Linked DNA regions of Homo sapiens: all the other regions are linked to region 3. The links come from fine-mapping of genetic effects on gene expression. A gene starts in region 3. Each other region holds a variant in brackets. All regions are shown on one strand. Distances are between the middles of the regions. Region 1 overlaps TGFB1 (transforming growth factor beta 1). Region 2 overlaps AXL (AXL receptor tyrosine kinase). Region 3 holds the start of HNRNPUL1 (heterogeneous nuclear ribonucleoprotein U like 1).

Region 1 (4,183 bases), 75 kb after region 3:
GCAATGGCGCGACCTCGGCTCACTGCAACCTCCACTTCCTGGGTTCAAGCAGTTCTCCTGCCTCAGCCTCAAGAGTAGCTGGGATTACAGGGCCCGCCACCACGCCTGGCTCATTTTTGAATTTTTAGTAGAGAGGAGGTTTCACCACGTTGGCCAGACTGGTCTCGAACTCCTGACCTCAGGTGGTCCACCCACCTTGGCCTCCCAAAGTGCTGGGATTACAGGTGTGAGCCACGACAGCTGGCCTGATTTTTGTATTTTTAGTACAGACAGGGTTTCACCATGTTGGCCAGGCTGGTCTCCAACTCCTGACCTCAAGTGATCCACCTGCCTCAGCCTCCCAAAGTGCTGGGATTACGGGTGTGAGCTACCATACCTGGCCTCTCTTAGGACTTTTTTCAAAATCTACAAAATCATCTCTCTCTCTCTCTGTATATATATTCAGGGTCAACTATATATAGACTGACCCTTGGACATGGGTTTGAACTACATGGGTCCTCTTACAAAATTCACCACTTACAGGTGAATTTTTCTTCCACCTCTGCCCTGAGACAGCAAGACCAACACCTTTTCTTCCTCCTCCTCAGCCTACTCAACATGAAGACCTTTATGATAAGCCACTTCCACTCAATGAATGGAAAATATACTTCCTCTTCCTTATGATTTTCTTAAGGACATTTTCTTTTCTCTATCTTATTTTTAAAATGCAGGCATAGGCCGGGAGCAGTGGTTCAAGCCTGTAAGGCCAGCACTTTGGGAGGCCGAGGCTGATGGATCACCTGAGGTCAGGAGTTCAAGACCAGCCTGGCCAACATGGTGAAACCCCGTCTCTACTAAAAATACAAAAATTACCCGGGTGCGATGGCGGATGCCTGAAATCACAGCTATTTGGGAGACTGAGGCAGGAGAATTGCTTGAACCTGGGAGGCGGAGGTTGCAGTGAGCTGAGATCACTTCACTGCACTCCAGCCTGGGTGACACAGCTAGACTCTGTCTCAAAAAAAAAAACAAAGAATACGGCCGGGTGCGTGGCTCACCCCTGCAATCCCAGCACTTTGGGAGGCTGAGGCGGGTAGATCACTTGAGGTCAGGAGTTCAAGACCAGCCTGGCCAACATGGTGAAACCCCACCTCTACTAAAAATACAAAAGTTAGCCGGGCATGGTGGCAGGTGCCTATAATCCCAACTACTCAGGAGGCTGAAGCAGGAGAATTGCTTGAACCCCCGGGAGGTGGAGGTTGCCGTGAGCTGAGATTGTGCCATTACACTCCAGCCTGAGTGACAACAGCGAAACTCCGTCTCAAAAAAAAAAAAAGGGGATATAGGACATAATACATAAAACATGCAAAATATGTATTATTCGGCCGGGAGCAGTGGCTCATGCCTGTAATCCTAGCACTTTGGGAGGCTGAGGTGGGCGGATTGCCTGACCTCAGGAGTTCAAGACCAGCCTGGGCAATACGGTGAAACCCCATCTCTACTAAAATACAAAAAATTAGCTGGGCGTGGCGGTGGGCACCTGTGGTCCCAGCTACTCGGGAGGCTGAAGCAAGAGAATCACTTGAACCCGGGAGGCAGAAGCTGCAGTGAGCCGAGACCGCACCACTGCACTCCAGCCTGAATGACAGAGACTCTGTCTCCAAAAAAAAAAAAAAGTATTAATCAACTGTTTATGTTGTGGATAAAGCAGAATTCCAGTCCACAGTAGGCTATTAATAGTTAAGTTTTTGGGGAGTCAAAACTTGTATGTGAATTTTTGGTTGCATGGGGGGTACGTGTGTGTGTGTGTGTGCTTTCCCCTTCTTTGCATTGTATTTGATGAAGAAACTGGGTGAGGTTTCTTGCAGTCTGAGTTTTGCTGACCATTTCCTCTGTTCCTGTCTTTCTAGAAAACTGTTAGGATCTACAGTCCTGATCAGATTCAGGTTTGATTTTTTTTTTTTTTTCCTGAGACAAGGTCCTGCTCTGTCCTGAAATGCAGTGGCGTGATCCTGGCTGACTGCAGCCACAACCTCCTAGGCTCAAGCACTCCTGCCTCAGCCTCCCAAGTAGCTGGGACTACAGGCACACACCACCCAGCCAGCTAGTTTTTTTGTATTTCTTGTACAGAGGCAGGGTTTTAACATGTTGCACAAGCTGGTCTTGAACTCCTAAGCTCAAGCGATCTGCCTGCCTTGGCCTCCCAAAGTGCTGGGATTACAGGCATGAGCCACCGCACCTGGCCTTCAGGTTTGATTTTTTGCCAAGACTTCCTAGGCAACATTGGGTCCCTCCCTACGGAGGCTGACATGGCTGGCTATCTCCCTTTGTAATGTCAGGAGCTGTTGGCACTCAAGACCTCAATTTGTGGCCGGG[C/T]GCAGTGGTTCATGCCTGTAATCCCAGCACTTTGGGAGGCCGAGGCGGGTGGATCACGAGGTCAGGAGTTCGAGACCAGCCTGACCAACATGGTGAAACCCAGTGTCTACTAAAAAAACCAAAAATTAGCCGGGTGTGGTGGCACACGCCTGTAATCCCAGCTACTCAGGAGGCTGAGGCAGGAGAATCACTTGAACCTGGGAGGCGGAGGTTGCAGTGAGCCGAGATCACGCCACTGCACTCCAGCCTGGGCAACAGAGCGAGACTCTGTCTCAAAAAAGACCTCAATTTGTTCATTGACAGCGTTGCTGGGCTGATGGCGCTAAGATCTGGTGGTGAAGGAGCCTGGGAGCAGGGCTGATTTTCTGGCAGGGAAACAGCCGGTAACAAAGCCCAGAGACAGGACCAAAATATTTTAAGCAAGGGAGGAATAAGGTCAGATGATCACTCTAAATTTACAACATTCTAACTCTCCATTTCAACTTTCTAGGAATCCAACATTTCAGCTTTCTTAGATTGCAGTATTAGCATTCCAGCATCTTATGATTCTAACATTCTGACAGCATCTTCAACTCTCTAGGATTCCCCCTTTCCAACCTTTGAGGATCTTGGCATTCCTGAATTCCAGTATGCCAGTATTGCATCCCAACATTCCAAAGTTCTGAGCCATCACTCAAGAGGTTCAAACTGACACTTTCTTTCTTTTTTTTTTTTTTTTTTTTTTTTAGATGGAGTCTCGCATCATTGCCCAGGCCGGAGTGCAGTGGCGCGATCTCGGTTCACTGCAACCTCCACCCCCGAGGTTCCAGTGATTCTCCTGCCCCAGCCTGGGTACCTGGATAGCCGTAATCCCAGCCGAGTAGCTGGGATTACAGGTGCCAGCCACCACACCTGGCTAATTTTTGTATTTTTAATAGAGATGGGGTTTCACCATGTTGGCCAGGCTGGTCTTGAACTCCAGACCTCAGGGATCCGCCCACCTCAGCCTCCCAAAGTGCTGGAATTATAGGCGTGAGCCACCGCGCCCAGCCTGCTGCCACTTTCTATTAATAAAATCCCAGCATTCTAATATTCTAACATTCCAACACTGAGTTCCAACATGCTGAGATACCAATATTCTGCTTTCTCCAACTCCAACATTTGTGGATGTGAATATTTCAAAACAGAATTCTACCACTGTGAGCCCAATATTCAAGGACTCCAATCTGCCAACACTGGTATCCACAATTGGCCAGTGGTGCAGGAATTCCACATGGGCCATCTTCCCATTTTGAATCCCCAAATTCTAGGATTCCAATGTTTCAGCTTTCCTTGAGTCCGACATTTTCCATTTCAGTAATTAACACCAAATTCTAGCATTCTAGAATCCCAGCATTCTAGAACCTCAACCTGCCAACAATTTAGGGATTCAAGATGGTGACCTTCCAACTTTGAATTCCAACAATCACAGGGTTCAACTTTCTAACATTCTGTGATTCCAACACTCCAGCAAGAAAGCAAGGCTGGGCGTGGTGGCTCACACCTGTAATCCCAGCACTTCGGGAGGCTGAGGCAGGCGGATCACGAGGTCAGGAGATCAAGACCATCCTGGCTAACATGGTGAAACCCAGTCTCTACTAAAGATACAAAAAATTAGGCCGGGCGCGTTGGCTCACGCCTGTAATCCCAGCACTTTGGGAGGCTGAGGTGGGTGTATCACGAGGTCAGGAGATGGAGACCATCCTGGCTAACACAGTGAAACCCCATCTCTACTAAAAATACAAAAAAATTAGCTGGGCGTGGTGGCACGTGCCTGTAGTCCTAGCTACTCGGGAGGCTGAGACAGGAG
Region 2 (4,108 bases), 38 kb before region 3:
GTCTCCATCCTTGTGTGTCTGCATCAGGCCTGCGCATCTACGAAACTGTGTTTTTTTGTTTTTTGGGGTTTTTGTTTTGAGACGGAGTCTCACTCTGTCACCCAAGCTGGAGTGCAGTGGCACGATCTTGGCTTACTGTAACTTCCGCCTCCGGGGTTCAAGGGATTCTCCTGCCTCAGCCTCCTGAGGAGCTGCGATTACAGGCACGCCTGGCTTATTTTTGTATTTTTAGTAAAGACAGGGTTTCATGACAGGTTTGTCATGTTGGCCAGGCTGGTCTCAAACTCCTGACCTCAAGTGATCCACCGGCCTCGGCCTCCCAAAGTACTGGGATTACAGGCGTGAGCCACCGCACCCAGCGCAAATGTGTTTTTGTATCAGTCTGTGTCTGGGTGAACATGAAACCTGGGCGCATCCAGCTCCATCTTATGGCGTAGATGGAGGCTTGGCTGTGAGGTGTACGCGTCGGTGTGTCTGTGTCTGAGCAGGTCAAAATGACCCTTCATTGTGTCCTGGTGTGTATCTATCTGTCCACCTCAACTCCATGTACGCTGTTACGTGGTGTGTGTCTCTGAATATACAGGGACATTTAAGTTTCTGTGTGTGTTGGCATCAGCCTAGATGTACATTGCGTCGCTAGGTGTTTGTAATCAATGTGTACATGTGTGACTGTGTGTTTATGTGTTTGTCCCACGTTGGCTTGTATGCATACATGTCTCTTTATGAATGTACATCAGTGTCAGCCCGCGTGTATATGTGTGAGTCACGGTGTTTTTGTGTCACTGTGTTTGTGACATCAGCCCTTGCATATCTGTGTGCCGTTAACTTACCAAGCGCTGCGTCTTCTGTGCTAATAACAGCCCCTGTGTGTTTAAGTGTGATTCATTGTGAGTGTGTGTGTGGGGGGGTTTGCTGTGTGAAGGAATTTCGTCCGTTTGTGTGCGTCTGTCCCTCTATCTGACTCAGGGCGTGCCCCTCCTCCTTCCATCCCTCTCATTCTCTGGAAAAGCTGGGGCGGAGAGCAGGGGTTGTGGGGGGATGGTCAGGACATCTGGAAAGCACATCTGGAATCGGCCTGCTCCTGTCGTCTTGCGGTAAAGCAAGAACCTTCTGGAGGGGAAGGGGTCCCAGTTCCTCCTGTCCCCTTCACTCAAGGTGCGGCCGTTGGGGCCTGGGAAGGGGGATCCCGGCTCTGGCTCCGCGCCCCCGAAGCCGGCCGGAAGCGCTGGGGTGGGGAGGTGCCCCCGGTGACTCACGCGGGGGCAGGAATGCTGCGGTCGGAACGGGACCCGGCTCCAGAACCCACCTCCAGCCCCAGGGCTTCTCCGGCCGGCGGCGCCAGCTCCCGCGCGCTGACCCTGGCGGGGCCCCACGTGCCAGGTGGCTGGACCCGACCCAGGCTCCCCGCCCCCACTCGGGCCGCCCGCCCGGGACTGTACTGTTTCTCCTCCGGGCGGCGCGGGGGCTGCGGGCGCGGGGCCTTCAGGGCGCGGAGGCTGCGGGAGCGGGCACCTGACCTTGTCTGGGAACGGCCACCTAGGAAGCCGCGACTGAGGAGCTCCCCTACCCTCCCCTTTCCGGCCTCTGCAGACTTTGCACCATTCCACTCCCTCCGCTGACGGAGAAAAGGAAACTTTGTGTCTGCGGATGGAGAGCCTCCCTTGCCAACGCGGTGGGAACAGAGGCGTACACGCACGGAGCAAACACGAGAGACACGTACACAGATACTCAACACATGCACGTACACACCATCCACAGATACACGCAGGGTCACAAACATACCAGCTCAGAAACACAAACACAGATGCACAAGCACACGCGTAAACAACACGCAGAACTGCAGTCGCACTTACAAGACTTGGTCCCAGGGCCGGGCACCGAGTGGCTCTGCCTGCGATCCAGCACTTTGGGAGGCCGAGGCGGGAGGATCGCTTGGGGCCAGAAGTTTGAGAGCAGCCTGGGCAACGTGGTGAGACTCTCCTCTTCTCTACAAAAAAAAATTGAAAAGTTAGCCAAGTGTGGTGGCCGCCTGTAGTCCCAGCTGCTTGGGAGGATGAGACAGGAGGATCGCTTGAGCCCTGGAGGTCAAGGCAGCAGTGAGCCGTGATTGTGCCACTGTACTGCAGCCTGGGAGATAGAGCAAGAACCTGTCTCAAAAAACAAAACGAAAAACTTGGTCCTTCTTACATCCTAGCGCAGACATTGTGTGTGTGTGCTGGGGGAGGGGGGTGTCTATGTTTCTACGTGTATCTGTGTTGGGGGATTCCCCTTATTCACCAGGATACGTTCTCTAAGAGCCCCCACAAAAGCCTGAAACAATGAATAATACTAAACCCTGTATATACTACACATAACTTTCTTTTTCCTTCACAATTTCGCAGATAGATTGTTTTCTTACTATAGATCTTAGCAACCTCAGTACATATATATATGATTATCTTTTTCTAAGTGGAGAATTTTCACCTTTTCACTTAAAAGGAAGCACTTTAAGGCTTCTCTTTGGCCT[A/G]TCCGAATTGCAGCCATCACTATTTTGCACCCTGGGGCCTTTTTTTTTTTTTTTTAGACAGAGTCTCTCTCTGTCGCCCAGGCTGGAGTGCAGTGTGGCGACCTTGGCTCACTGCAACCTCCGCAGCCCGGGTTCTAGCAGTTATCGTGCCTCAGCCTCCCGAGTAGCTGGGATTACAGGCACGCGCCACCATGCCCGGCTGATTTTTTTGTATTTTTAGTAGAGACGGGGGTTTCACTGTGTTGCCCAGGCTTGTCTTAAACTCCTAATCTCAAGTGATCCACCCGCCTCGGCCTCCCAAAGTGCTGGGATTACAGATGTGAGCCATAGCACCCGGCCAGGCGATTATTTAGATAAATAAGAGTTTCTTGAACTCTGCACTTGAGCACTGCAGTACCAGGACAGTTGATCTGATAGCTAAGTGACTTACAGACAGGTATCAGATACAGCACTGAGATGCTGGACAAAGGGGGGATTCACGTTCTAGGCCAACCAGAGTGGGATGGCATGAGGTTTCATCACAGTACTCAGAACGGCATGCAATTTAAAACTTAGGAGTTATATCTGGAATTTTCCATTGAAATATTTTTAGACCAAGTGTAACTGAAACCTCAAAAAGTGAAACCTCGGATAAAGGGGGACTGATGTACGTTGTATAGCGGTTTGTGTTGGGTATCTCTGTGTGCTTGCAGGTCTGTGTCTCTCGTGTTTGTCTCTGTAATTGTACGTGCTTCTGTGTGTGCACGCTGGTCATACCAACACCAACACCACCACGTTAGGGAGGGAAGGCAATCCACCTTCACTCGAAAACAGTTACTCAAGGCCGGGCACGGTGGCTCACACCTGTGATCCCAGCACTTTGGGAGGCTGAGATGGGCAGATCACTTGAGGTCAGGAGTTCGAGACCAGCCTGGCCAACATGGTGAAACCCTATCTCTACTAAAAATTACAAAAATTAGCCGGGCATGGTGGCGCGCTCCTGTAATCCCAGCTACTCAGAAGGCTGAGGCAGGAGAATGGCTTGAACCCAGGAGGCAGAGGTTGCAGTGAGCCAAGATCATGCCACTGCACTTTAGCCTGGGCAACAGAGCAAGACTCTCAAAAAACAAAAGAAAAAAACAGTCAAGACACAATACGTGAACTCCCCTATGGAATTACACATGCTCATATTTCTACACCTATGCCCAGGAATGCTCATAAGTACATAGCTGAACACAATTTCACTCACTCATTCAACAAGCATTTATGGCACACCTATTGTGTGCCAGGCCATCCTGACACAGCAGGGGACGAAACAGACACAACCCCTGCCCTCCTAGAGCTGACATTCTAGTGGGAGAAACTGACAATGGGCAAGGTACTTGGGTAACAGGTAAAGTATGTTGGGTGATGAGAAGAACCAAAGAGGAAAAGTAAAGCGGGAAGGGGATAGATTTGGAGAGGAAGCTCCAATTAGCTCCAATTTTATTGTATTTTTTCTTTCTTTCTTTGTCTTTTCTTTTCTTTCTTTTTTTTTTGAGACAGAGTTTCACTCTTGTTGCCCAGGCTGGAGTGCAATGGCGTGATCTCAGCTCACTGCAGCCTCTGCCTCCCGGGTTCAAG
Region 3 (4,183 bases):
TGCTGTGTGTTTGGGTTGCTGTAGTGTTCGCTTGTAGTGCAACTATCCTGTGTTATCTTTATTATTCGATGCCGCCTGCCTCTGCGGACCGTAGTGGGCACATCTACACTGCAGCGGGGTGCCTTACCCAAAGCAGATCGGAATTGGGGCCGGGCGCGGTGGCTCACGCCTGTAATCCCAGCACTTTGGGAGGCCGAGGCGGGCGGATCACTTGAGGTCAGGAGTTCGAGACCAGCCTGGCCAACATGGTGAAACCCCGTCTCTACTAAAAATACAAAAATTAGTCGGGCATGGTGGCGGGGACCTGTAATCCCAGCTACTCGGAAGGCTGAGGCAGGAGAATCGCTTGAACACGGGAGGCGGAGGTTGCGGTGAGCTGAGATAGAGGCCCTGCACTCCAGCCAGGGTAACAAGAGCGAGACTCCGTCTCAAAAAAAAAAAAAAAAAAAAAAGAACAACAAAAAAAAGAACTGGATGCGTCTGATCTGACGCACGCCTGTTTGTTTACGACTGCGGGGTGTGCCTTTGTCTGAGTAGAGATAGTGTGTGGCTTTTGCGGGCTTAACGTGTGGCTCAGGAGGCAGTGGGAGTCTGCATCATGTATCCCGATTGCGTCTTACTCGAGTTTTGTTTTGAGTTAGAGGCGACAGGTGGTGCAGCGTTAGACACTGGGAAGCTCTGTGGCTTTTGTATTCCTGAGCGCGAAGGTTAATGACGGATCCGTGGGGTTGAGCTTGTCGGTACAGACGCCAGACAGCCCGATTTACGGGAACAGCCGATTAGAGGATTCGGGAGAGCGGTCGGTGAACTTCTGGATGTCTTTCGGGAGGGGAAGGCTCTATGGTCGCGTGCAGAGCGCCCGTTCCACGTCAGGTACCCGACCATAGAGCAAGGCGGCCGCGGACTACCCAAGGGAAGGGGAGGCCGTGTCCTTTACAACTTGCCTCCCGTTGTTAGTCTAGTTTCTATAGCCAAACCTTCGGGACTCTCTCAACTCAAAATTTTGCTTTTCCTAAAGGCAACTGGGTTCCTTCCAGATTACGAACTGTGTATCCACTTAATCTCTATTTCGTATACCTCCTCCTACAGCGAAATTTGTGAGGCAGTCCTCTGAAGCACGGCCAATCTGGTGAACTTTTCCTAAAATGAGCCATCGCTACCAGCTTTAGTGAGCTAAGACAATAACTGCGATTGGTGGGCAGATTGTTTTGAAACCGCCCTAACGGCAAGGGGCGGGCTCCTGGTGAATTCATCTCTTTCCGGTTTCTTAAAGGCAACAGGAAGGAGGGGTTTCTGCCGACCCTCCATTTGATTGGTTCTAGTGGTTTTACCCGCTCGGACTCCTCAAGGGGCGGGAGATGTACACCAATCGGAATGTGTGTTACAGAGACACTTAGTTTGATGAAAGGACTGCGCAGGAAAGGCCGTGGGACACTCATTCTGAGATCTTACCGTTGATTGGACCAAATTGTTACTCCCTTATTTTCATTGGACCTTACGGCAGCCGGCGCGCGAGAGTTACCCAATCAGCAAGCGCTCCGCCTCCTGCCTTTTCCCGCCCTCCGCTCCGGCCTCGGCTTCGACGTAGGCCAACGCTTCCTCCCCAGTAGCTCCTAGGCCTTCTCGTGGCCGTTGTTTTGAAAACGGCGCTCTGATTGGCTAGGTTTCCGGGCCCGCGCCCGTTGCCCCACGCACTGACCAATTGGCACTCATGTAACATCGGACGAGGCACGAGTGAGGGGGGAGGCGGTGGCGGCGGCCATTTTGAGCCGCTGCCGCCATTGGAGTGGGCCCCCCCCCTTTCCCCCTTCGCCTCCTGACAGGAAAGGTTTAAGGGGGACAGAGCCCTGGGAGGCCGGGCCGGGCTCGGGGGCCACCCCGGGGGCCCGGGCCATGGATGTGCGCCGTCTGAAGGTGAACGAACTTCGCGAGGAGCTGCAGCGCCGCGGCCTGGACACTCGAGGCCTCAAGGCCGAGCTTGCTGAGCGGCTGCAGGCGGCGTTGGAGGCCGAGGAGCCTGACGACGAGCGGGAGCTCGACGCCGACGACGAACCGGGGCGACCCGGGCACATCAACGAGGAGGTCGAGACCGAGGGGGGCTCCGAGCTGGAGGGGACCGCGCAGCCACCGCCGCCCGGGCTGCAGCCGCACGCGGAGCCCGGCGGCTACTCGGGGCCGGACGGACATTGTGAGAGTGCGCGGGGCGGGGGCCGGGGAGCCCGGAGCCTGGGCCGAGGAAAGGGCTGTGGGACGCGGGAGTCCAGCGCCTGAGGTCGGGGAGACGACCTGAGGATCGGGGGATCCCGCTACCCGCCGCCGAAAAGGATCTGGGGACCAGGGCCCCAGCACGACCGGAGGGTGGATCCTGACACTCAGTGCAGGGGGGACACTGGGGGAGGGGCCTCTGGGTTTCGGAGGTGAGGGACGGGGGTGGCGGGGAGGATTCCGTACCGTAGGGATCGGAGACCGGAAACTGCTTTCTGGAGCCGAAGAGAGTCGGAAGAACAAGAGGTTTTCCGTTTGGGTTGGGGAGGGTCTCGAAAATGGGGATCCTAGGGTACGGAGCTCCGTGGGCTTGGCGGTCGTGCTAGCCCAGCGTGTGGGCTGGGGGGTGGGGAGCCGTGTTTCCAGGGTGGGGAAGGAATGTCCAGGTGTGCGGGGCTGCGAGAGTTCTGAGGAAGGAGGATCCTGGAATATGCCGCTGGATGCGATCCTGGGCGTTCTCCTATTTGGGTACGGGGGTGGGTGGGAGAGGTGGAGGCGCTGGTGTCTGTGGCTGGGGAGGGTCCTAATGGACTCAGTGCTTTGGAGTTTGGCTAGTGAGCATTTAGGGGCTGCGGGAGATTGAACTAGGGGGCACCCCCATCTCTCTTCCGGGGCTGGAAGGCCACCCTTGAAGCAGGCACAGCCTGGACATTAGGTGCTGGGAGATCTGGGGACTTTCTGGTTGGCTTCTAGAAGAGGTATAGGGAGCCCTGGTGTCCAGAGGCTGGCGGGGGAGAGGATGCTTTCCTGGACAAAGGATCTGGGGGTCTAGAGCTAAGAAAACTGAGGGCAAATAACTCTTGAGGCTGCTGCTGACTGGTCTGGAGCTAACTGTGGGGTTTTTGGAGAACAGAGGGTAGCTGGGGGTGGGATGGGGGCAGATGAGTTGGTAACATTCCAAGTGGATGAAATATGTGGCGGGAGACAGAGGATCCTGTGTCCAGCACAGGAGTACGTATCTGGCTTAGCGAATATGGGGAGGGGGGAGGCCGTAGGGAGCAAAGAGAAAGAAACCTGTTGACTTCACTGGAGGCCTCAGAGTGGAGTGTGGGGAATGTTTCTGGACCTGAGCGTCTCCAGGAGAAATCTCGACGGTTCCCAGAAGCAGTTATTTGTGTACCCAGGGAGTGGGGGCCCTCGGGGAGCAGCACGGAACTCTTCATCAGCCAGGAGCTGTGACTCTGGGAATGGGTTCGGGTAGACCTGCGGTTGTCTGAGGAGAGGAAAACCTGATATGGGACGGCGTGAATCTTCAGTTAGAAAAAAAGCAGCTTTCGGGCCGAGTGCAGTGGCTCACGCCTGTTATTCCAGCACTTTGGGAGGCCGAGGCGGGCGGATCACGAGGTCAGGAGTTCAAGACCAGTCTGGCCAGCATAGTGAAACCCTGTCTCTACTAAAAATACAAATATTAACCGGATCTGGTGGTGTGCGCCTGTAGTCCCAGCTACTCGGGAGGCTGAGGCAGGAGAATCGCTTGAACTTGGGAGGGGGAGGTTGCAGTCAGCCGAGATTACGCCATTGCACTCCAGCCTGGGCAACAAAAGTGAAACTCCGTCTCAAAAAAGAAAAAAGCAGCTTTCTTTCTCTTTTTTTTAAATACAGATGGGGGGTCTCGCTATGTTGCCCAGGGTGGTCTTGAACTCCTGGGTTCAGGTGATCTCACCTCGGCCTCCTGAAGTGCTGGGATTACAGGCGTGAATCACTGCACCAGGCCTCAGGGCAGCTTTCTAGTAGGACTGGGAAATGGGGGGACTGGAAAGGTTAAGGAGTAAGTAGAAGGGATTCTGGCGTAAGAGTTTGTGGAGTTTTTCTGAAAAGAGGGCACCCTGGGACTTGGGGCTAAGGGGATAAGGAGAGAAATGAGGTAACAGAAGAGACAGGATTTGGGGTTGGAATTGGATACTTGTTCATAAGAGAA

The links. PIP is the estimated chance that this variant, and not a neighbour inherited with it, causes the effect.
Region 1: its variant is the best candidate, but not a certain one, in a credible set for the expression of HNRNPUL1 in fibroblasts (GTEx, PIP 0.52).
Region 2: its variant is the best candidate, but not a certain one, in a credible set for the expression of HNRNPUL1 in whole blood (TOPMed, PIP 0.63).

What each region holds. Positions count from the first base shown.
Region 1 is chr19:41,337,195-41,341,377 of GRCh38, forward strand. All of the region lies in intron 5 of TGFB1 (transforming growth factor beta 1), which reads right to left. Among named protein-coding and RNA genes, the nearest start is that of TGFB1, 15 kb to the right of the region's middle. The variant C/T (reference allele first, on the strand shown) is at 2,356.
Region 2 is chr19:41,224,944-41,229,051 of GRCh38, forward strand. All of the region lies in intron 4 of AXL (AXL receptor tyrosine kinase), which reads left to right. Among named protein-coding and RNA genes, the nearest start is that of AXL, 7.8 kb to the left of the region's middle. RefSeq lists an enhancer at 1-243. The variant A/G (reference allele first, on the strand shown) is at 2,507.
Region 3 is chr19:41,262,611-41,266,793 of GRCh38, forward strand. HNRNPUL1 (heterogeneous nuclear ribonucleoprotein U like 1) reads left to right here and starts at 1,762. Exons shown (of 15, transcript NM_007040.6): 1 at 1,762-2,188. The coding sequence starts at 1,894. RefSeq lists enhancers at 194-733, 734-1,273, 1,274-1,812 and silencers at 1,818-2,057, 2,148-2,217, 2,238-2,287.